3 separate regions of the Homo sapiens genome follow, and regions 1 and 2 are each linked to region 3. Evidence: fine-mapped expression QTL. A gene starts in region 3. Each other region holds a variant in brackets. All regions are shown on one strand. Distances are from middle to middle.

Evidence for each region. PIP is the estimated chance that this variant, and not a neighbour inherited with it, causes the effect. A credible set is the group of variants that fine-mapping cannot tell apart.
Region 1: its variant is the best candidate, but not a certain one, in a credible set for the expression of PLEKHB2 in whole blood (INTERVAL, PIP 0.69).
Region 2: its variant is the best candidate, but not a certain one, in a credible set for the expression of PLEKHB2 in sun-exposed skin (GTEx, PIP 0.56).

Annotation. Positions count from the first base shown.
Region 1 is chr2:131,372,478-131,380,664 of GRCh38, forward strand. It overlaps the pseudogene MTND4P21, the pseudogene MTND4LP28, the pseudogene MTND3P18 and the pseudogene MTCO3P18. Among named protein-coding and RNA genes, the nearest start is that of RAB6D, 12 kb to the left of the region's middle. The variant G/A (reference allele first, on the strand shown) is at 4,094.
Region 2 is chr2:130,977,265-130,985,451 of GRCh38, forward strand. All of the region lies in intron 4 of ARHGEF4 (Rho guanine nucleotide exchange factor 4), which reads left to right. Among named protein-coding and RNA genes, the nearest start is that of SMIM39, 54 kb to the right of the region's middle. The variant A/AGAATTGCC (reference allele first, on the strand shown) is at 4,721.
Region 3 is chr2:131,101,845-131,110,031 of GRCh38, forward strand. PLEKHB2 (pleckstrin homology domain containing B2) reads left to right here and starts at 3,492. Exons shown (of 8, transcript NM_001100623.2): 1 at 3,492-3,554. RefSeq lists an enhancer at 3,216-3,345.

The DNA.
Region 1 (8,187 bases), 270 kb after region 3:
CCTATAAGCATAATGGTAATATTTGATCAGGAGAGTGAAGCCACTCTTACGAGGAGTTCACCTATTAGATTAGTGGAGGGGGGTAAGGCAGGGTTAGTAAGATTTGCTATAAGCAAAAGGGTATTAGTGGAAATAATATTTGAAGCCCTTGAGAGAGTAATATGATTCGGCTGTGGGTTCGCTTGTAGTTTGAATTTGCTAGGCAGAAAAGTAGGGACGAAGTAAGTCCGTGGGCAATTATGAGGATAATAGCAAGATAAAGCTTCAGGGGATTTGAATAAGGATAGCCATAATAACAAGTGCCATATGGCTTACGGAGGAATATGCAATAAGTGACTTTAGATCAGTTTGTCATAGACAGATAGAGCTTCTCATAACTATACCTCATAAGGATAACATGAGGAAGGGATAGACTATATATTCTGTCAGGGGGCTGAGGATAAGGGTTAAGTCGTATTATGCCATAGCCGCCTAGTTTTAGGAGTCCTGCTGCAAGTACTATTGAACTGGCAATAGGAGTTTCTACATGGGCTTTAGGAAGTCATAGGTGAAGTCCGTATAGGGGTATTTTTAGCATAAAAGCCATTATACACACCATATAAAGTTGTTGGATCAGGAAATTAATAGTTGTTGGGTATTAAATGTTATTATGCTCAGTGAGCCTAGGATATTTTGGGTGTAAGTAAGTATAATAAGTAGGGGGAGAGATCCTACTAGTGTATAAAGTAAGAAATATGTGCTTGCATTGAGGCATTCTAGTTGGTTGCCCCAGCGGGTAATAATAATTAAGGTGGGGATAAGTGTAGTTTCAAAGAGAATATAAAATATAATTAGTTCTGTGGCTGTAAATGCTGTAATTAGAAAAACCTGTAGGGAGATCAATATGGAAATATAGAGCTTTTTCTGTGGGAGGGATTCACTGGAGAGGTGATACTGGCTTGCTGTAATTATAAGAGGTAATGGCCAGGCTGTTAAGATTAGAAGGGGTGATGTTAGGGGATCAGAGGAGAAAGTTGATGAGGAGTTGAATAGATTGTCGTTGAATTGATTAAAGAATAATAGGGCAATAAAGCTGATAATTAGGCTGTGAGTGGTTATATTCATCCAGAGTATAGGATTTTTAGAGAGTCATGTTATTGGTAGCAGTGTGATTGTTAGAATGATAACTTTTAGCTTTGAAGTAAATTTAGGTTATGCACATAGTTTAAGTCATATGTGTTGGAAATTGAAACTAGTAAGGCAAGGCCCACTGCGGCTTTGCCGGCAGCAAATACTAGTAGGGTGATGGGTACTACGGTTGCTAGGGTAAAATGTATATTTAAAGTTATAAGGAGGGGTGGAGCCAAGATGGCCAAATAGGAACAGCTCCGGTCTACAGCTCCCAGCATGAGCGATGCAGAAGACGGGTGATTTCTGCATTTTCATCTGAGCTTTGAAGAGAGCAGTGGTTCTCCCAGCATGCAGCTGGAGATCTGAGAACGGGCAGACTGCCTCCTCAAGTGGGTCCCTGACCCCTGACCCCCGAGCAGCCTAACTGGGAGGCACCCCCAAGTAGGGGCAGACTGACACCTCACACGGCCAGGTACTTCTCTGAGACAAAACTTCCAGAGGAACGATCAGACAGCAGCATTTGCAGTTCATGAAAATCTGCTGTTCTGCAGCCACTGCTGCGGGTACCCAGGCAAACAGGGTCTGGAGTGGACCTCTAGCAAACTCCAACAGACCTGCAGCTGAGGGTCCTATCTGTTAGAAGGAAAACTAACAAACAGAAAGGACATCCACACCAAAAACCCATCTGTACATCACCATCATCAAAGACCAAAAGTAGATAAAACCACAAAGATGGGGAAAAAACAGAGCAGAAAAACTGCAAACTCTAAAAAGCAGAGCGCCTCTCCTCCTCCAAAGGAATGCAGTTCCTCACCAGCAACGGAACAAAGCTGGACGGAGAAGGACTTTGACGAGTTAAGAGAAGAAGGCTTCAGATGATCAAACTACTCTGAGCTACAGGAGGAAATTCAAACCAAAGGCAAAGAAGTTAAAAACTTTGAAAAAAATTTAGACAAATGTATAACTAGAATAACCAATGCACAGAAGTCCTTAAAGGAGCTGATGGAGCTGAAAGCCAAGGATCGAGAAATACGTGAAGAATGCAGAAGCCTCAGGAGCCAATGCAATCAACTGGAATAAAGGGTATCAGTGATGGAAGATGAAATGAATGAAATGAAGTGAAAAGGGAAGTTTAGAGAAAAAGAATAAAAAGAAATGAACAAAGCCTCCAAGAAATATGGGACTATGTGAAAAGACCAAATCTATGTCTGATTGGTGTACCTGAAAGTGACGGGGAGAACAGAACCAAGTTGGAAAACACTCTACAAGATATTATCCAGGAGAACTTCCCCAATCTAGCAAGGCAGGCCAACATTCAAATTCAGGAAATACAGAGAATGCCACAAAGATACTCCTCGAGAAGAGCAACTCCAAGACACATAATTGTCAGATTCACCAAAGTTGAAATGAAGGAAAAAACGTTAAGGGCAGCCAGAGAGAAAGGTCGGGTTACCCACAAAGGGAAGCCCATCAGACTAACAGCAGATCTCTTGGCAGAAACTCTACAAGCCAGAAGAGAGTGGGGGCCAATATTCAACATCCTTAAAGAAAAGAATTTTCAACCCAGAATTTCCTATCCAGCCAAACTAAGCTTCATAAGTGAAGGAGAAATAAAATACTTTACAGACAAGCAAATGCTGAGAGATTTTGTCACCGCCAGGCTTGCCCTAAAAGAGCTCCTGAAGGAAGCACTAAACATGGAAAGGAACAACCGGTACCAGCCACTGCAAAATCATGCCAAATTGTAAAGACCATCCAGGCTAGGAAGAAACTGCATCAACTAACGAGCAAAATAACCAGCTAACATCATAATGACAGGATCAAATTCACACATAACAATATTAACTTTAAATGTAAATGGTCTACATGCTCCAATTAAAAGACACAGACTGGCAAATTGGATAAAGACTCAAGACCCATCAGTGTGCTGTATTCAGGAAACCCATCTCACGTGCAGAGACACACATAGGCTCAAAATAAAGGGATGGAGGAAGATCTACCAAGCAAATGGAAAACAAAAAAAGGCAGGGGTTGCAATCCTACTCTTTGATAAAACAGAGTTTAAACCAGCAAAGATCAAAAGAGACAAAGAAGGCCATTACATAATGGTAAAGGGATCAATTCAACAAGAAGAGCTAACTATCGTAAATATATATGCACCCAATACAGGAGCACCCAGATTCATAAAGCAAGTCCTGAGTGACCTACAAAGAGACTTAGACTCCCACACAATAATAATGGGAGACTTTAACACCCCACTGTCAACATTAGACAGATCAACGAGACAGAAAGTTAACAAGGATACCCAGGAATTGAACTCAGCTCTGCACCAAGCGGACCTAGTAGACATCTATAGAACTCTCCACCCCAAATCAACAGAATCTACATTTTTTCAGCACCACACCACACCTATTCCAAAATTGATCACATAGTTGGAAGTAAAGCCCTCCTCAGCAAATGTAAAAGAACAGAAATTATAACAAACTATCTCTCAGACCACAGTGCAATCAAACTAGAACTCAGGATTAAGAAACTCACTCAAAACCACTCAACTATATGGAAACTGAACAACCTGCTCCTGAATGACTACTGGGTACATAACAAAATGAAGGCAGAAATAAAGATGTTCTTTGAAACCAATGAGAACAAAGACACAACATACCAGAATCTCTGGGACACATTCAAAGCAGTGTGTAGAGGGAAATTTATGGCACTAAATGCCCACAAGAGAAAGCAGGAAAGATCCAAAATTGACACCCTAACATCACAATTAAAAGAACTAGAAAAGCAAGAGCAAACACATTCAAAAGCTAGCAGAAGGCAAGAAATAACTAAAATCAGAGCAGAACTGAAGGAAATAGAGACACAAAAAACCCTTCAAAAAATTAATGAATCCAGGATCTGGTTTTTTGAAAGGATCAACAAAATTGATAGACCGCTAGCAAGACTAATAAAGAAGAAAAGTGAGAAGAATCAAATAGAC[G/A]CAATAAAAAATGATAAAGGGGATATCACCACCAATCCCACAGAAATACAAACTACCATCAGAGAATATTACAAACACCTCTACGCAAATAAACTAGAAAATCTAGAAGAAATGGATAAATTCCTCGACACATACATCCTCCCAAGACTAAACCAGGAAGAAGTTGAATCTCTGAATAGATCAATAATAGGCTCTGAAATTGTGGCAATAATCAATAGCTTACCAACCAAAAAAAGTCCAGGACCAGATGGATTCACAGCCGAATTCTACCAGAGGTACAACGAGGAGCTGGTACCATTCCTTCTGAAACTATTCCAATCAATAGAAAAAGGAATCCTCCCTAACTCATTTTATGAGGCCAGCATCATCCTGATACCAAAGCTGGGCAGAGACATAACCAAAAAAGGGAATTTTAGACCAATATCCTTGATGAACATTGATGCAAAAATCCTCAATAAAATACTGGCAAACTGAATCCAGCAGCACATCAAAAAGCTTATCCACCATGATCAAGTGGGCTTCATCCCTGGGATGCAAGGCTGGTTCAACATATGCAAATCAATAAATGTAATCCAGCATATAAACAGAACCAAAGACAAAAACCACATGATTATCTCAATAGATGCAGAAAAGGCCTTTGACAAAATTCAACAACCCTTCATGCTAAAAACTCTCAATAAATTAGGTATTGATGGGACGTATCTCAAAATACTAAGAGCTACCTATGACAAACCCACAGCCAATATCACACTGAATGGGCAAAAACTGGTAGCATTCTCTTTGAAAACTGGCATGAGACAGGGATGCCCTCTCTCACCACTCCTATTCAACATAGTGTTGGAAGTTCTGGCCAGGGCAATCAGGCAGGAGAAGGAAATAAAGGGTATTCAATTAGGAAAAGAGGAAGTCAAATTGTCCCTGTTTGCAGATGACATGATTGTATATCTAGAAAACCCCATTGTCTCAGCCCAAAACCTCCTTAAGCTGATAAGCAACTTCAGCAAAGTCTCAGGATACAAAATCAATGTACAAAAATCACAAGCATTCTTATACACCAATAACAGACAAACAGAGAGCCAAATCATGAGTGAACTCCCATTCACAATTGCTTCAAAGAGAATAAAATACCTAGGAATCCAACTTACAAGGGCTGTGAAGGACCTCTTCAAGGAGAACTACAAACCACTGCTCAGTGAAATAAAAGAGGATACAAAGAAATGGAAGAACATTCCATGCTCATGGGTAGGAAGAATCAATATCGTGAAAATGGCCATACTGCCCAAGGTCATTTATAGATTCAATGCCATCCCCATCAAGCTACCAATGACTTTATTCACAGAATTGGAAAAAACTACTTTAAAGTTCATATGAAACCAAAAAAGAGCCCGCATCGCCAAGTCAATCCTGAACCAAAAGAACAAAGCCAGAGGCATCATGCTACGTGACTTCAAACTATACTACAAGGCTACAGTAACCAAAACAGCATGGTACTGGTACCAAAACAGAGATATAGATAAATGGAACAGAACAGAGCCCTCAGAAATAACACCACACATCTACAACCATCTGATCTTTGACAAACCTGGGAAAAACAAGCAATGGGGAAAGGATTCCCTATTTAATAAATGGTGCTGGGAAAACTGGCTAGCCATATGTAGAAAGCTGAAACTGGATCTCTTCCTTACACCTTATACAAAAATTAATTCAAGATGGATTAAAGACTTAAACGTTAGACCTAAAACCATAAAAACCCTGAAACCCAAGAAAACATAGGCATTACCATTCAGGACATAGGCATGGGCAAGGACTTCATGTCTAAAACACCAAAAGCAATGGCAAGAAAAGCCAAAATTGACAAATGGGATGTAATTAAACTAAAGAGCTTCTGCACAGCAAAAGAAACTACCATCAGAGTGAACAGGCAACCTACAAAATGGGAGAAAATTTTCGCAACCCACTCATCTGACAAAGGGCTGATATCCAGAATCTACAATGAACTCAAACAAATTTACAAGAAAAAAACAAACAAGCCCATGAAAAAGTGGGCGAAGGACATGAACAGACACTTCTCAAAAGAAGACATCTATGCAGCCAAAAAACACATGAAAAAATGCTCACCATCACTGGCCATCAGAGAAATGCAAATCAAAACCACAATGAGATACCATCTCACACCAATTAGAATGGCGATCATTAAAAAGTCAGGAAACAACAGGTGCTGGAGAGGATGTGGAGAAATAGGAACACTTTTACACTGTTGGTGGGACTGTAAACCCATTCAACCATTGTGGAAGTCAGTGTGGTGATTCCTCAGGGATCTAGAACTAGAAATACCATTTGACCCAGCCATCCCATTACTGGGTATATACCCAAAGGACAATAAATCATGCTGCTATAAAGACACATGCACACGTATGTTTATTGAGGCACCATTCACAATAGCAAAGACTTGGAGCCAACCCAAATGTCCAACAATGATAGACTGGATTAAGAAAATGTGGCACATATACACCATGGAATACTATGCATCCATAAAAAATGATGAGTTCATGTCCTTTGTAGGGACATGGATGAAATTGGAAATCATCATTCTCAGAAACTATCACAAGGACAAAAAACCAAACACCGCATGTTCTCTCTCATAGGTGGGAATTGAACGATGAGAACACATGGACACAAGAAGGGGAACATCACACTCTGGGGTCTGTTGTGGGGTGGGGGGAGGGGGGAGGGATAGCATTAGGAGATATACCTAATGCTAAATGACGAGTTAATGGGTGCAGCACACCAGCATGGCACATGTATACATATGTAACTAACCTGCACATTGTGCACATGTACCCTAAAACTTAAAGTATAATAATAATAAAATAAATAAATAAATAAGTAAATAAAGTTATAAGGGTATTTATGATGAATAATGATAATATTATTCCTTCTAGGCATAGTAGGAAAAAAGTTGTATTTATATATAGCAATGCTGGCAGCTAGGACTGTGAGAGAAAGGAGTAGAAGAACTGCTGATATTAAGTGGGATTGATAGATTAATAACCCCAGAAGTGATATGGTATATGTGAATATAATATTTATGTAAACAGGGGGCATTTGGTAAACATGTTCTATCATAACTAACGAGTCAAAATCATTTATTTTGGCTTAAACTACTTACCAATTCAGTTCAGTCTAATCCTTTTTGAGTTCATTCATAAGGTAACCCTAGGATTAAAATGATAACTAGCATAAGGGATGTACTAATTATTAGTGTCAGGTTGTTTGAAGGGCTCATGGTAAGGGTAGCAGTAGGGTGATTTCTAAGTCAAATAGGAGGAATGTGATGGCTACTAGAAATGATTTTATGGAGAAAGGAATGCGGGTGGAGGATAACGAGTCAAATCCTCATTCGTAGGGGCTGGATTTTTCTGTATAAATATTAAGTTGTGGGAGCCAGAATGTAATAGCTATAAGTGACAGGGCTAGTAGGGTGTTGATTACTAGGGCTAGTGTTAGGTTAATTACTCTTTTTCAGATACTATCGAAACTAATTGATTGGAAGTCAATGGTACTGTTTATACTAAAAGAGTAAGACCCTCATCAGTAGATAGAAATATACAAGAATAGTCATACTACATCTACATAGTGTCAATATCAGGCGGTGGCTTCAAAGCCAAAATGATGGCTGGATGTAAAGTGGTATTTTAATTGGCGGAGAAGGCAGATAGTAAGGAAAGTTGATCCAATAATGATGTGAAGTCCATAAAAGCCTGTAGCTATAAAAAATGTTGGGCCATAAATTCCATCAGAAAAAGCAAAGGGAGCCTCTAAGTATTCTGAGACTTGTAGGAGGGTGAAGCAAATGCCTAAGATAATTGTGAAAAGTAGTGCTTGAATTACTTGTTTTTGATTATTTTCTATTAGGCTGTGATGGGCTCAAGTAATTGAAATGTGTTCAGGAGGGGTACTTCCAGGGGGTTGAGGGGAGAAATGCTTGTTGGAGATCAGTGTCCTCCTAATTCTGGAGCTGGGGCTAGACTAGAATGGTAGAATGCTCAAAAGAATCCAGCAAAGACAAATACTTCTGAGATAACAAATATGAC
Region 2 (8,187 bases), 120 kb before region 3:
TATGTGCTAGTGTGGTGTGTCAGTGTTAGTATGCATAGTGTGTGTTTGTGTTTGTAGTTGGTGCGTTAAGTATGTGGTGTGTGTAGAGTATGGTGCCTATATTGTGTTGCGTATGTTGTGTGTGTTGTGTGATGTGTTTTTTGTGTATGGGGTGTGTTTGTGTTTTCTATGTGGTGTATGTTGCGTGTGTGTGTAGTGTTTATGTTGTGTGTGCTTTGTGTGTATAGTGGTTTTATGATGTGTATGTATGTTGTGCATGTGTGGTATACATTGTGTGTATGTTCTGGGTTTTGTGTGTTGGGCATGTTACATGTATGTTGTGTATGTGTGGTGCATATGCGTTGCATATGTATGGTGTGTGCTGTGTGTGTTTTGTGTTTTGCATGTGTCGTGTATGTATGGTGTGTGTGTGTGCGCTGTGTGCATTGTGCAAACGTGTTTTTTTTGCATCTTGTGCGTGTGTGGTGTTTCATGTGTATGTGTGTATGTTGTGTGAGTTGTGCATGCATGGTGAGTTGTGTATGTGTCACCAGGGGTTTGGTCTAGGTTCTGCTGCCCACCACACAGAAAGCCAATCACTGAGACAACAAGTATTGCCAAGGAAGAAGGCTTTAATCAGGTGCAGCAGCCAAGGAGGTGGGAGCTCAGGCTCAAATCCATCTCCCTGACCAACTAAAACTAGGGCTTTATGTAGGAGGGAAGAAATGTAACAGTGTGTGAGAAAATAGGGCCTAGGGAGGGGCAAGGAGGCATCTGATGTGGTGATCTGGTGAGTTTCACTCCTTTGACACTTCCTGAGATCCCTTTTCTGAGGAAGGAACTCATATCAAACAAATACAAGTTTCAAGCTTTAACAGCAGAAGGATCCATTTCTATGTTTATCCAAAAGCAACTGTCTATGGGACCCTCGGGCTGGTTTCAGTCCCCCCTTTCTATTTATCAGTTCCACAATCATGAGGAATCTCGTCATTGATCTTTCTGGCTGCTTCATGCTGAGGAGGGGTGTCGTGGGCAGCTCCATACCATGGCTGACCATGTAGCCACCCAGGAATCGAAGGTTAATCTAATATAGAGTTTTCTTCTGACATACAATATTTCTCCCTGGTCCACACTTCTGCCAAAGACAAATCACAGCAGGACCAACCTAGCTGCATAATAAGTGTCAGTCCCATATTCTTGGCCTGATTACTCACACAAAGTGCAACAAGAATCACTGTCCATATAGATTCCCAAGTTGGCTTTGCTGGAACATCTCACAAGACTATTTCAGTCAAAGCCCTGAGAAAATAACCAGTCCCTTCAATTGTGTCGCATTACAAAAGAAAACATGGTCTTTGTGCAAAGAATTACACATTGCCATGAATGAAGAATATTCACGAATAGTTTACAAATTCTGGAGAAATTAGGCAGAGAAATATGACTCAAATTCTGTTTACAAAAGTATACTCAATACACTTAAAGTATATTTCAAGGCTATAAATAGCTCCAAAAAAAAAAAAATTCTCCAGACTCTGAAAAACAAAACAAAAAGAATCAGCAATATTTCAAACAACAAAAGCCATAAAAAAAATTATTTCTGTCCTGCAGTAGTTCAGTCCATGCAGTCACCTCCTGCTCTGCTTCATATTGGGTTAGCAATCTTCAGGAACACATCAGCCTTTCAATTTGTGCAGTGGAAGTTCTCCCTCTAATCCAATGGCACAATCTCCAAAGTTATCAGAAACCTGCACTCACGAGTCCTTTTCAAGAACTCCTCCAAAGAAGTAAGCCTTGGACTGTAGCTAATTCTAAGCCAGTTTTTTTTGAGAAGGATCAAAGTAAAACATCAATTGTGGATGACAAAAGTCTTAAGACAGCCATAGTTAATGACACCGTTGACAGGAAAATTTGGTTATTTCTGTGGCATACAACAATTTAACGTGACAATCATAACTATTACTGACAACATATATTAAGGCATATCAGAATTTTAGGAATCTCATATAATCCTAGAACCCATGTTAGCAACACATCTATATAAATATAACTTGAAGGAAGCTAAACACCACCTCAGATTTGACAATGCTTCCTGCATAGTTCTAATATAACAAGCCTAATAATCCCAACCATGTCTCTCTTGAACTTCAGGGAACCTAATATCCAAAAAGTTTAGTTTGAGGACAAAAAGACTGAATTTAAAACTTGAAATTGGCCAGGCGTGATGGCTCATGCCTGTAATCCCAGCACTTTGGGAGGCCGAGGTGGGCAGATCACCTGAGGTCAGGAATTCAAGAGCAGCCTGGTCAACATGGTGAAACCCCATGTCTACTAAAACTACAAAAATTAGATGGGCTTGGTAGCGGGAGCCTGTAATCCCAGCTACTCGGGAGGCTGAGTCAGGAGAATGGCTTGAACCCAGGAGGTGGAGGTTGCAGTGAGCCAAGATTGTGCCGCTGCATTCCAGCCTCGGTGACAAAGCAAGACTCCATCTAAAAAAAAAAAAAAAAAAAAAACCTGAAATTTTGCTGTTAGAAAATCTGTCAGATTTCAAAGGTTTCAGACAGACACCCAATATCACAAAATAGGATCACAAGTTTCTATAAAATAGTCATTCAGGTAGCGAAAATTATAATATAAAATGTTTACGCTTTGATAGAGAGGAAACTTTCTCAAACAATAAGACCTAATACTTAACTATCATTCTCTCTAACATGTTACAAATTAAAACAATGTAATTGGTGTTTAGAAGTTACTGCCAGCAACACTTCAAACCACTGTATTAAAGTAGTTAGGTTACTCATCACATATGTCTAATTGCTAGTATTCTAGTAACATAACTGTAAACAAAAACATAAAAAACGTTGTAAGTCTGGATGGGCATGGTGGCTCATGCTTGTATCCCCAGCAATTTGGGATGCCGAGGCAGGTGGATCACTTGAGCTCAGGAGTTTGAGACCAGCTTGGCCAACATGGTGAAACCCCATCTCTACTAAAAATACAAAAATTAGCTGAGCATGGTGGTGGGTGCCTGTGGTCCCAGCTACTTGGGAGGCTGAGGCAGGAGAATCACTTGAGCCCAGTGGCAGAGGTTGCAGTGAGCCAAGATCATGCCATCCACCCTGTGTGACAGAGTATGACCATGTCTCAAAAAAAAAAAAAAATTATAAGTCCTATGCCAGACTTAGCAAAATAAGACTAACTAACATTTTTTCTTTATCATTAAAAAATGATAAATGCAAATATCAGTTTTGGAAATTTAGTATGAGAAGTAATCTTTCACTTAAATACTATACAACGAAACAGGGAGAAAGTAAGAATAAGCACACAGCAATTTCTTTTCAGCTATTTTGAAAACACATCAACACACATTTCTAAGATTGGTTTCTAGATACAGTACTGACGACTGGTTAGGCAACCTTCACCACTCAAATCTGTAAACCAGTGCAGCATGTGCACATAATTTGTTTTCAGGTACATACATGAAGGCCCATCAGTGATAAACAGCTTGAGATCACAAATCACCAGGAAGTCTCACCTTTTTTAAAATTACTAATTAATCCAAGTGAATGTCACTTTAAATTAGTTTGAGAGAAATTCTACTCAATATAATTTCCTTAAGGATAAGGCCAATCTTTCCTGAATATTAAAACCATGTACCCATATCACAGTTTTTCTTCACCACCTAAAGGAAAAGATCTGAAACCAACTCAAATTGTTGATTGAATTGAGTTACCTTGAATATAAACACCATTGAAACATTTCTGTTCTCACCTACTTTTGCCAAATTACAAAATTTGTAATATGCTATTTCTGTTCAGAACTTAAGTCTTTTATTATTTCATTTTTTTGTGGCTGGGAACCTTAAAACTCTCATAGCTCTGTAGATCATTAGAGGCAAGCAAATCCAACCAAATTTCAAATGGCTGTTGTGCTCCATCCATTCCTGAAGACCAAACAAAGATAGCCTGGGAATTCTAGATAAATAGAACAAATAATGACTTGCTAGAAATGCATAGGAAACAAAATAATTATTCACAGAACCAAATAAATGCCTTCTACTAAAAACTAAAAAACATCAGTTTTATATCTACGCATACACAAGAAAAACCCAAAGGAGAACAAACAGCAACAAATAAAAACTAGAAGTGAAAATAGGCCTGTAATCCCAGCACTTTGGGAGGCCAAGGCAGGCGGATCCCAAGGTCGGGGGATCGAGACCAGCTTGGCCAATATGGTGAAACCCCGTTTCTACAAAAAATACAAAAGTTAGCCAGGTGTGGTGGCAGGCGCCTGTAGTCCCAGCTACTCAGGAGGCTGAGGCAGGAAAATAGCTGGAACCTGGGAGGTGGAGGTTGCAGTGAGCAAGATTGCACCACTGCACTCCAGCCTGGGTGACAAAGCGAGACTCCATCTCAAAAAAAAAAAAAAAGAAAAAAAAGAAGTAAAAACAAACAGGAAACAGACCCCCCATTCTTTTCCCCACTCAGTTACCCTGGAGGCTGCAGTGTTACCCAGAGTCAAGAAAACCCCACATAATGAATATTTTATTCCTGATCACACAAGTCAGTATCCTTAAGTCCACCAATATTACCATACATCCTGTGCAATCAAGAAATTCATTCTAGGCACATGGCCAGTAAGTACTCTAGTGCCAGCACTATCCATGCAAAACAACAAACATAGTGTGAAGCAATACAAACATGTACACTAAATCTGGCTTCATGCTTAACTACAGTAAAAA[A/AGAATTGCC]GAATTGCCAAACTGCCAATACATTTTTTTTTGAGATGGAGTCCTACTCTGTCACCGAGGCTGGAGTGCAGTGGCATTGTGTTGGCTCACTGCAACCTCCATCTCCTGGGTTCAAGCAATTCCCCTGCCTCAGCCTCCCTAGTCGCTGGGATTACAGGCACCCACCACCACGCCCTGCTAGTTTTCATATTTTCAGTAGAGACAGGGTTTCACCATGTTGGCCAGGCTAATCTCGAACTCCTGACCTCAGGTGCCTCAGCCTCCCAAAGTGCTGGGATAACAGGCATGAGCCACCATGCCCGGCCTGCGTTTTTTTATAATATTTATTTTATTTTAATCAGGACTGAGAGCTTTAACTATGAAAATGTTAATTAGCCAAATTTCTCCAATTGTCTATCAGGTTTTAAAGAATGCTTTACTATCTAAACTTTTTCAACTTTCTATTTTGTCTGTATGTGCATGAAGATAGACACACAGAGAAACAGAAAAAAATTACATGTGACTTACACAGATTATCCATGACATGCCTGGGCTTTCTGTTCAGTCCCAGATTTTTTCTTCCTTCTTTTTTCGCCTCCTCCTCCTCCCCCTTCTCCTCCCCCTCCTCCTCCTTTCCCTCCTCCTCCTCCTTTCTTCTTTTCTTTCTTACCATTTTACTGTAGGCCAAAAGAATTTACCATACAAGATTCTTTCTCATACAAAATTAGCTTTTCTTTATAACCTTCCTTACCAAAAATACATCTTCATATATATAACTTTTTTCACATCTCTCTCCCTTACTTACTGATTCCTACTGCCTTGTTTCATAAATAATCTTTTTAAAGGTGTAATTTGAACTAACTTTTAGATAACTTCTGAATTAGACAAAATTACTGTTTTTCTAATACATCTTTTGGCACATTTATATACAGAATTACTATTAACTATAATTCTTATCCTTAGTAACCTTAAATTTTAGTGAAACCCTAAAAAGCAAGAAATCCTGAACTATCAGATATGAACATTTTATATAGTTAAGAACAGTTCCACAATTTTCAGAAACATATTTTCCTATATCACAAAGCTTTTTTAATTGGAAGCAACCTGCATATCTAATGAGCATCAAAAATAATTTCCAGATTTTAAATTACACAAAAAGTTTACCTAAAACATCCCATTTACATGTACTCAATTCTTTCATTTTTAGCAGTTTATCTAGATTACTTCTGAAAACTGAGAGATTAAACACCATCATTTAAAGTTAGTAATTTCCTTCTTAACAATTTTATAATCTGTGAATATCAGATGTTCACTGAAATAAGAACCTTAAAGTTAACTACATGGGCATTGTCACTAATAACTCAGAAGATTCAGCTGTTTTCATTAAACCAATAACAGTCTGACTTATCAAAAAATTTGCATGAAGATCATTTTGTTTTGGCCAGCTTTATAGTTTTATAACCTTCCATGCCAAACCCTGACATCTCAAAATATCTCCCAGAGACAAATATAAAAACCAGACAAAAATATATGCTGACAATTCTGAAGACATTCCTGTTTTCATTTTACCAACCATTTTAAAGCAAGCTAGTAAAGATTTACTTAAGTCACATGAACTTGAAAATAGCTTGGACTTAATTTACTTAATGTATGAGTGCTCTTTTATTTATTTTTATTTTATTTTATTTATTTAATTTTTTTTTTGAGATGGAGTCTTGCTCTGTTGCCCAGGCTGGAGTACAGTGGCGCCATCTCAGCTCACTGCAAGCTCCGCCTCCCGGGTTCATGCCATTCTCCTGCCTCAGCCGCCTGAATAGCTGGGACTACAGGCGTCCGCCACCACACCCGGCTAATTTTTTGTATTTTTAGTAGAGACGGGGTTTCACCATGTTAGCCAGGATGGTCTTGATCTCCTGACCTTGTGATCTGCCCGCTTCGGCCTCCCAAAGTGCTGGGATTACAGGCATGAGCCACAATGCCCGGCCTGAGTGCTCTTTTATTTATAAGCCAATTTGGTAGACACAACATATAACAATAAGTGTACATACAAATAAACACATATAGATATGCGTACACACACAAAGATCCAATAGCTTTTACCTTAGAGCTCTAGCAATGAGATAGCAATACAAACATACTGGTTTTACATGGTTACACTTCTTTTGCCCCAGTAGGTAATCTGGTGAAGGCTGTGAACCAAAATTTTGGGTAGTTTCCATAGCAGTTTGATTTTCAAAGGCCCAACCTCCCCAGACTCCAAAGAACATTGTGGCCAAACAGCACCAAAGGAGAGCACCACATACTAAGCAGGCTCAACCCTGCTTAGAACAGCAGCACAGAAACCTGGATACATGCAACTCCAACCCACTTTCCCATTTAACAGCAAACTCCACATTCCAAACGATATTGTGGCCAAACGGTATTGCAAAAGAATATCAAGTTTATGGCCAGGCGCAGTGGCTCACACCTGTAATCCCAGCACTTTGGGAGGCCAAGGTGGGTGGATCACCTGAGGTCAGGAGTTCAAGACCAGCCTGGCAAACATGGTGAAACCCTGTCTCTACTAAAAATACAAAAATTGCCGGGTGTAGTGGCTGCGCCTGTAATCCCAGCTACTCGGGAGGCTGAGGCAGGAGAATCGCTTGAACCCGGGAGGCAGAGGTTGCAGTGAGACAAGATTGTGCCACTGCACTCCAGCCTAGTTGACAGAGCAAGGCTCTGTCTTAAAAAAAAAAAAAAAAATCAAGTTTACCAAATTCTAATTTCCCATGACTATATCAGACACACACACACAATCGCCAGAACACAATCCAGTTGCTGCTGCAACAAACAAGCCCCAAGTGTCCAAACTGAAACAGTTGGGGTGCTTCCTTTCTCCATCGGTTAGGCTTTTGGTTTTTGCAAACAAAAATTCCTTAGGAATTTCCCAAATTGAGAGGAGCTGATCCTGCTGTCTGGTACCTACAAAAGACATGCACTTGCCCGCACACCACACAATTACAAACAAGCCCCCAAGAGTATCCATACTGAAACAACAGTCAGGGTGCTCCCCCATCAAGCTCTTTGCAGGGCTTGTTCAACCTGCAAATGGAAATTCCTTTAAAATTTTCCCAAACTGAGAGGAGCAGATCCTGCTATATGGGCCCAAAAAGGACATGCACCTCTTTGGATGTAGAGGTGCTTCTAGGAAGGGGCTTCTTCCAAGGCAATCAGGAATGCAGTCGGGGCCAGCTAAGGCAAAGCCAAAGAGAGATGGAAACTCGCTTCCAGCCAAAAGTGGGCAGGCAGCTTAGGAGGGCTTCTGAGACCCCAGGTCCAAGGCAGCGGAACCACAAACAACACATTCCTGGTCAGGGAACCAAAATCTGTTACCAAAACACCAGGGGTTTGGTGTAGGTTCTGCTGCTCACCACACAGAAAACCAATCACTGAGACAAGTATTGCTACAGAAAAAGGCTATAATCGGGTGCTGCAGCCGAGGAAATGGG
Region 3 (8,187 bases):
CTGATGGGTACAGAGTCCCAATGCAACTCTTTGAACTCTTGGACTTCTCCCTCTCAGTTTCAGACAAGAGGCTGCACATTCAGATAGGGGGCTGGAAAGCAGGCGTCCTCACCTGCACCCAGCCTTCTTTCCCCTGGCCTCTTCTCAATAAACATGAACAGGAAGCCAGTTTTTCTTTTCTTTCTTTTTTTTTTTTTTTTTTCTGAGTTGGAGTTTCACTCAGTCGCCCAGGCTGGAGTGCAGTGGCACAATCTCAGCTCACTGCAACCTCCGCCTCCTGGGTTCAAGCTATTCTCCTGCCTCAGCCTCCCAAGTAGCTGGGATTACAGGTGCCCGCCACCACGCCTGGCTAATTATTTTGTATTTTTAGTAGAGATGGGGTTTCACCACGTTGGCCAGGCTGGTCTCGAACTCTGGACCTCGAGCGATCTGCATGCCTCGACCTCCCAAAGTGCTAGGATTACAGGCGTGAGCCACCACGCCCAGCCCAGAAAGCCAGTTTTACTGAATCAGAAAACTTGTTATGGGACACTCCCTCCTCCAGGTACTGGAACGCCTACTTAAACTGAACTTTATTAAAATATTACTTTTTTTTTGTCTGGGTGCAGTGGCTTACGCCTGTAATCCCAGCATTTTGGGAGGCCGAGGCAGGTGGATCACGAGGTCGGGAGTTTGAGACCAGCCTGGCCAACATGATGAAACCCTGTCTCTACTAAAAATACAAAATAAATAGCTGGGTGTGGGGGCGCACACCTGTATTCCCAGCTACTCAGGAGGCTGAGGCAGAATAATTGCTTGAACCCAGGAGGCGGAGGTTGCAGTGAGCCTAGATGGTGCCACTGTCCACCAGCCTGGGTGACAGTGAGACTCCATCTCAAAAAAAAAATTATTATTATTTTGAGGCAGGGTCTCATTCTTTTGCTCAACCTGGAGTGCAGTGACACAATCATGGCTCACTGCACCCTTGACCTCCCGGATTCTAGTGAAGCTTCCCTCTCAGCCTCTCAAGTAGCTGGGACTACAGATGCATGCCACCATGCCAGTCTAATTTTTTTATTTTTATTTTTTTGTAGAGAAAGTGTCCCACTGTGTTGCCCAAGCTGGTCTTGAACTCCTGGGCTCAAGTAATTCTCCTGTCTTGGCCTCCCAAAGTGCTGGGATTATAGACGTGAGCCATCACACCCAGCCTTAAATATTACTTTTTCCTGTTGTTGAAGTGATACATATTCATGAAAGAAAACTTGGAAAATGCAGAAAAGTAGAAAAAAGAAATGTCATCCACAGTCCCATCACTCAGAGAGAATGTGTTAGTGTATTTTTGGATACTCCAAACTCAGACCCTGAAAGGTCCCTAAGACTGACCCTGAAGGTGGTCAGGGCTAGTATAGCCTTAATGAGGGCTGGTCAAGAAGCTTGTTGATGTCAGGCAATTTACCCGAGCTCATCCAGAAGCAGCGGAACCAGGAAGAACCCCATGTCACACAAATCTCTGAACTCTTGTGTTGACTAAGCTATAATATCTTGCAAAAGATGGGATTGCAGGCATCATAGGACTCCCTACCCTGCATTTTTTAAATTTTCCCCAGAGAGGAGCTGGGTTAAGACAGGGGCCCTGATTGGCAGAGTTTGGGGTTTTGAAGACCAATAATAATAGGGCTCTTCCAATATTTTTTTTAAGAGTTTTTCCCTTTTAAATTTAGATATAATTTATACACAGAAAAATGTACAAATCTTTTTTTTTTTTTTTTTTTTTTTTAGATGGAGTCTCTCTGTCGCCTAGGCTGGAGTGCAGTGGCGTGATCTCGGCTCAGTGCAACGTCTGCCTCCCGGGTTCACACCATTTTCCTGCCTCAGCCTCCCAAGTAGCTGGGACTACCGGCGCCCGCCACCACGCCTGGCTAATTTTTGTATTTTTAGTCTCTGAGTATCTGGGATTACAAGCGCACCACCAGGCCTGACTAATTTTTTTTTGTATTTTTAGTATGGACGGTGTTTCACCACGTTGGTCAGGCTGGTCTCAAACTCCTGACCTCGTGATCTGCCTGCCTCGGCCTCCCAAAGTGCTGGGATTACAGGCGTGAGCCACTGTGCCCGGCCAAAAATGTACAAATGTTAAGTATAGTGTTCAGCTTGATAAAGTTTTACTTACACACACGTACCCACCACTCAGATCAATGTATAGAACATTTTCAGCACCCTAGGAGTGGGGTTGCCAGGAGGCTCTCTCAAGCCTCTTTCCAGGCAGTACCCCTACACCACCCCCCAACCCCTGCTAGGCTGGAACGCAGTGGCTTGATTGCAGGTCAAACTTCTGGGCTCAAGCAATCCTCCTGCCTCTGGCTCGCAAAGCTCTGGGATTACTGGCATGAACCATCTCACCTGGCTAACATTTATTTTCCCTCTATTGTCTTCAGAAAACCCCCAACTTTTCATCTGGAATAATTTTAGACTACAAAAAAGTTATAAAGCTAGTATACCCTTCACACAATTTCTCCTAATGTTAACATCTTACATAACCATTATACATTTCTTATAACTAAAAACTACTATTACCTAAACTTAAATTTTATTTTAAGTTTATAGCCTAGCTACATCACCATGTTGCATATGACAGTGTCTCAGTTTTTTTCTTGCTTTTGATTACCTTGATAGTTTGAGGAGTACTGGTGAGGTGTTTTGAGGAATATCCCACAAACGAGATTTGTCTGATGTTTATCTTTCAGTTAGACTGAGGTCACGGTTTTTTTTTTAATCACATGTCAAGGGCAAGTGCAGTGACTAATCACTTTGATTTTCACGTGGAGTGGCTCTACAGCCCTCTTTCCACACTGTACTCTTGGAAAGGTCGTCCCCAGGCATAGGCCACACTCAGGGTGGGTGTGGACGGATTACCACACCCCTCTGGATGAGGTATTATTAGAATTCCTCTGCAAGGAAGATTATCCCTTCTCCCTCATTTATTTAATCACGTATTTATAGCAGCACGGGCTCTGGGCTGTTTTATACTTTAGGTTATAACTTAATGCAATGTACTTTATATTGCTGCTCAAATTGTCCCAGGCGCGGCCCCCGGAAGCTCTCTGGGTAGATCCCTGCGCCCTTGGACGCCCGGTCCTTCAGTTTTTTGAGCACCTCAAGCTTCTGGCCTACAAAACGCTCCCGGCTCAGCTGGAGCTTTCTGCGCCCGGGTCCTAGAGTCGCCCATTTCTCTAAGGCGCCTTGGCCCTATTTTTAGAGAGCGGTATTTAGAAACCAAGATTAGGGTGCTAACAATTTTTTTTTAAATTTTTATATTTTTAAGACAGGATCTCACTTTGTAACACTTCCTTTTAGTGGAAGCGCCGACCTCCTGGGAGACCCACGCCCCCTGCCGCCTTCCGTCCCGTTTCTCAGAAAACCACCCAGACACCCCGCCCCACCGGCCGGGGCCCGCCGCGCATGCGCGCCGAGGCGTGACGTCAGAACGGCGGCCAGGACGCCGGACGTGCGGCAGTTGCAGGCGAGCAGGCGAGGAATCGCCGTGGCGTCTTGGTGTTCTCCACGCTGGTTCGCAGGTGAGTGTCCCTGTTTAGTCCGGACGACCCTAGCTCCTTTCCCCTCTGGCCCGCGCCTCTCCAGATTCTCCTCTAGAGCTGCCCAGCCTCGCGCCCCTCTGAGGGGACCCCGCACCGCGCCACCTCCGCGGTGTCCCCACTCCCTAATTTTCCCTGAGGCTCCTGGCCACGGGTCCGCCCACCTCCCTGGACCACCCTGACCTTCCCCAGGTCCGCCCTCTCAGTCTCCCCTAGAGCAGCCCATTCGAGAGCCCTCCCAGTGGGCCCCCCCGGCCTCTCAGACCCCTTCCCATCGCTTCCCCGGCGTCCGCCTCCGGTCCTTTCCCCGAGCCCCTCCTCTCCGGCCCCGCGGACCCTCCTCCTTTCCCGACTGCAGCCTCCGCCTTGCATCCTTTCTGGCCGCTCGGGAGTGTCCCACATGTCTGACTGCCGGGACCTGCTGCGGCCCGCCGCCTGGGGTCTCCCGGCGTCCGATCTCTACCCCTGCTGCTCCCTCTGCTCCAGGGAACTTGCCTTCTCAGTTCTCCTGCCCAGAGGTCTCCCCTCCTTAAGTCCCGGGGGGCGTTGAGGCTTTACCCTCGCGGTGCGGTCCGCCCCCGCTGCATTTCACCTGCTCTTGGCCTTGCAATGTCTTTAGTCATAAGTGCTTGGTGTACCTTATCTTACATATCTCTCTTCATGTTTGATTCTGTTACTCAACTAGATTGAAAACTCCGGAGGTCAGGGATTTGCATAGGGATCCCCGCCCCGCCACCCCGCTTAAATCTCAAATGTAGACCGGTTCAGGGTGGGTGGAGGAAAGGAATGAGGTGGAGTGGTCACTGTAAAAAATTAAAGGAACATGGTTAATTCAAAATAATACTGACTCATGGTCTCAGCCTTTAAATTTTTAGTGCTTAGGAAAGGGTGGAACCACCACCGAGGGAGGAGGGCTGACAGCTGAGGGGAGGAATATTCCAAGGTCTTCTGTGGCCTTTGGTATGAACCAGTACCAATTCAGGAAGTGACTTGTCCGAAGTCACATGAGGAATTAGGACCCGAGCTGGCACTGGTAACTGCCTGTTTAGTGTGGCCCTCAGTATTTGTTGACTAAACTAATGACCAAAACATGTATGCACAGACACAGCTGTGCGTCTGTGCCCATGCAGTGGGTGTGTCTGCCTAAGGACCTGTGGGGGTGTGGGAATACTGCTGTGACGGTTCAATTGTGGTGCTCAGGAGTGTTCCCTAGGTTCAGAAAGTTCCTAACCCTGGGCTGGTTGGCTGGATATTGATAGGACTGGAGCTTGTCTGGGCTTCCTTTGTGCCTGGTGTTTACTCTCTGTGGTGGTGATCTCTTTACTCGACTCTTCCCTATTCGTACTGATCTCCCTGAGGACAGGAATCAAACTGTGTTGCAGGGTTTCCCTAATAAACAGCATAGTGTTTGGCACTTTGTAGGTGGTCAGTAAATGCTTATTGAAGAAGGCTGCAGAAAAGAACTCAGAACCTGACAGCGGTTCTTTGCTAGCATTATATTTTAAAGGCGGTGGTACATTCTGTAAGTAAATTTCCTGCTATTCTCAAGGACTGAGTTGATTAAATGTGTACAGCAGTGGTATAGAGAGGACAGATACTCTTGTGGTGTTACTCCTTGGGAAGGTGGAGGTTTCTCTCAGCTCTTTCTGAAAGCTTTGCTTATGCTTTTCAGCTTGCATTAATATTTTTGTTTCTCCTTTCCTCTGCCTGCCTTCTTACTGTTTGTCTAAAGAAATTAAAGAATTACCTTATTAATAACAGTAACTACCAAAAACTGCAAAACACACTGTTAAAAATGCTCCCAAAGTGGGGGCTAATTGACCCAGTTGTTTTGTTAGTTATATATTTGCTTCCACAGTGGATCATGGAAACGGAAAGTTGGACTTCCTTGCCTCTTTGCTTTCTTTGCCTGTCTGCCCTTTGATGGTGCTTGTATTAGGCTTGTTGTTAAGAAGTGGTTCCCAACTGGAAATGGCCAATGCCACGTGGGAACTGACCTCTACATGTTGATGGGTCACCCAACCTTCTTTCCCTTCTGTTTCAGAATGTACCTGTGACATCTCTTTGACTCTCCACTGTTGCCCTTGAAGAACAGAGATGAGTTTTCTTCCTTTTTCATAAGGAAGCCACTTTTATAGCGAAAGAGAGCTGGAGAACTGGGATATCATGAGGAGTTGTAGACAGTTAAACCTGAATTCTAGCTTTTGGAACAAAATAGTAATGTAATTGTAGCAGTTCTCACTTTTTTATTTTTTATTTTTTTGAGACGGAGTTTCACTCCTGTTGCTTAGGCTGGAGTGCGATGGCGCAGTCTCGGCTCACTGCAACCTCCGCTTCCCGGGTTCAAGGGAGTCCCCTGCCTCTGCCCCCCAAATAGCTGGGATTACAGGCGTGCGCCACCATGCTCGGCTAATTTTTTGTATTTTTAATAGAGATGGGGTTTCACTATGTTGGTCAGGCTGGTCTCGAACTCCTGACCTCAGGTGATCCGCCTGCCTTGGCCTCCCAAAGTGTTGGGATTATAGGCGTGAGCCAACGCGCCTGGCCAATTCTCACTTTTGGACCATCTACTACAGGGCTGTTTGGACATACCTCCTTTAATTGTCACAGTAACCCCATGACGTAATTGGTTGTGCCTGGTCATACAGGTAAGAAAACTGAGGCTTAGAGAGGTTTAGAATTTTGCTGAAGGTCATACTAGTGAGTAGAAGGCAAAGTAGGCTTCAGGCTTAGAACTGTCAGATTCCAAAGGCAGTATTTTTTGTCCATCTGTTGTCTGTTTCGATTCAATGCTTTCAAAGAGATACAAATTCAAATTTAAAATAATTTAAATTGTTGAATATGGCTTACATTTTAAAGCTTTGCATAGGTTTTATTGGCATAAAAATAATGTTCTTTTGCAGCTAGTTTGCTGGTGTTTTATTCTCTAGAGACCAACAGCTAGGGCTTAGTGTTTATCTGATGAGTTTTAGTTTATGCATTCAGTTTTGCTCCAGGATATAAATAGTGAAATGTTGAATTAAGTTATGGAGTGGTGTGAAATTCAGCATGCTAAGGCAATCAAACAGAAGTCTTCTGAGCCATTTGAGAAGCAGCTTGATGTCCTTGTTCTTAGAACAGGGCTGTCCAATCTTTAGACTTTCTTGGGCCACATTGGAAGAAGGCCATACATAAAATACACTAACCCTAATGATAGCTGATGCACTAAAAAATAAAATTGCAAAAAAATCTCATAACGTTTTAAGAAAGTTTACAAATTTGTGTTGGGCTGCATTCAAAGCTGACCTGGGCTGGGGCCATGAGTTGGACAAGCTTGTTCTAGAATATTTTCGGCAAATTTTGGTAAGGGGGAAAATAAGTAATAGTAATAATAGTAGTAAATAGTAATAATTGCTGTCAAAGCAGCTACCATTTATCGAGTTCTAGTAACTGTGAGGCACCATGCCAACTACTTACATATTATTTCACCCAATTTTCCGAACATCCTGTCAAGTAGGTGGTGGGAATTTTCGTTTTATAGATCAGGCTTGGAAACGTGACTTGTCCGATTGAGTCAGGATCTGAACATAGGTCTTTTAACTCTAAAGCTTATACCCAAACACTGGGTTCTGTGAAATTTCAAAAGCATATGATAGGCTGACTGCAGTGGCTCATACCTGTAATCCCAGAACTTTGGGAGGCTGAGATGGAAGAATCCCTTGAGCCCAGGAGTTCGAGACCAGCTTGGGCAACATAGTGAAACCTCGTCTCTACAAAAACAAAACAAAATGTGATCAAAATCATACTTCATGATTTTTGGTTTCTAAAGATACTCTCTAAATTTCTCTCCCCAATTTAAAAACGAAAGCAGAGCACTGTTGGAAGGTTCAAATAGGTAGATTAATTTAGGTTGGTTTTTTTGTTTTGGTATAGTTGAAGATAATTCAGGTTATTGTTTACATGTTTACATTTATCAAAATAATACATGTACATAGATTGAAAGACCAAATAGGCTGAGCGTGGTGGCTCAAGCTTTTGGAGGCCAGCACTTTTGGAGGCTGAGGCGGGTGGATCCCCTGAGGTCAGGAGTTTGAGACCAGCCTGACCAACGTGGTAAAATCCCGTCTGTACTAAAAGTACAAAAATCAGCTGTGCGTGGTGGTGGGCGCCTGTAATCCCAGCTACTTGGGAGGCTGAGGCAGGAGAATCGCTTGAACCTGGAAGGCGATGGGTGCAGTGAGCCAAGATCGCGCCACTATACTCCAGCCTGGGCAACAAGAGCGAAACTCTGTCTCAAAACAAACAAACAAAAAAAACAACCAAATAGTGCTTTAAACCTTAGAATAAAAAAAAATATATCAATCTCTTGTCCACCCCCTTTTTAAACTATAGACAACTATTTTCACCTTTTTTTGGCACTTTTTAAAATAGTATTTTGGCTGGGTGTGGTGGCTCACACCTGTAATTCCAGCACTTTGGGATGCCAAGGCAAGTGGATCATGAGGTCAGGAGATCGAGACCATCCTGGCTGACACGGTGAAACCCTGTCTCTACTAAAAATACAAAAAAATTACCTGGGTGTGGTGGCGGTTGCCTGTAGTCCCAGCTATTCGGGAGGCTGAGGCAGGAGAATGGC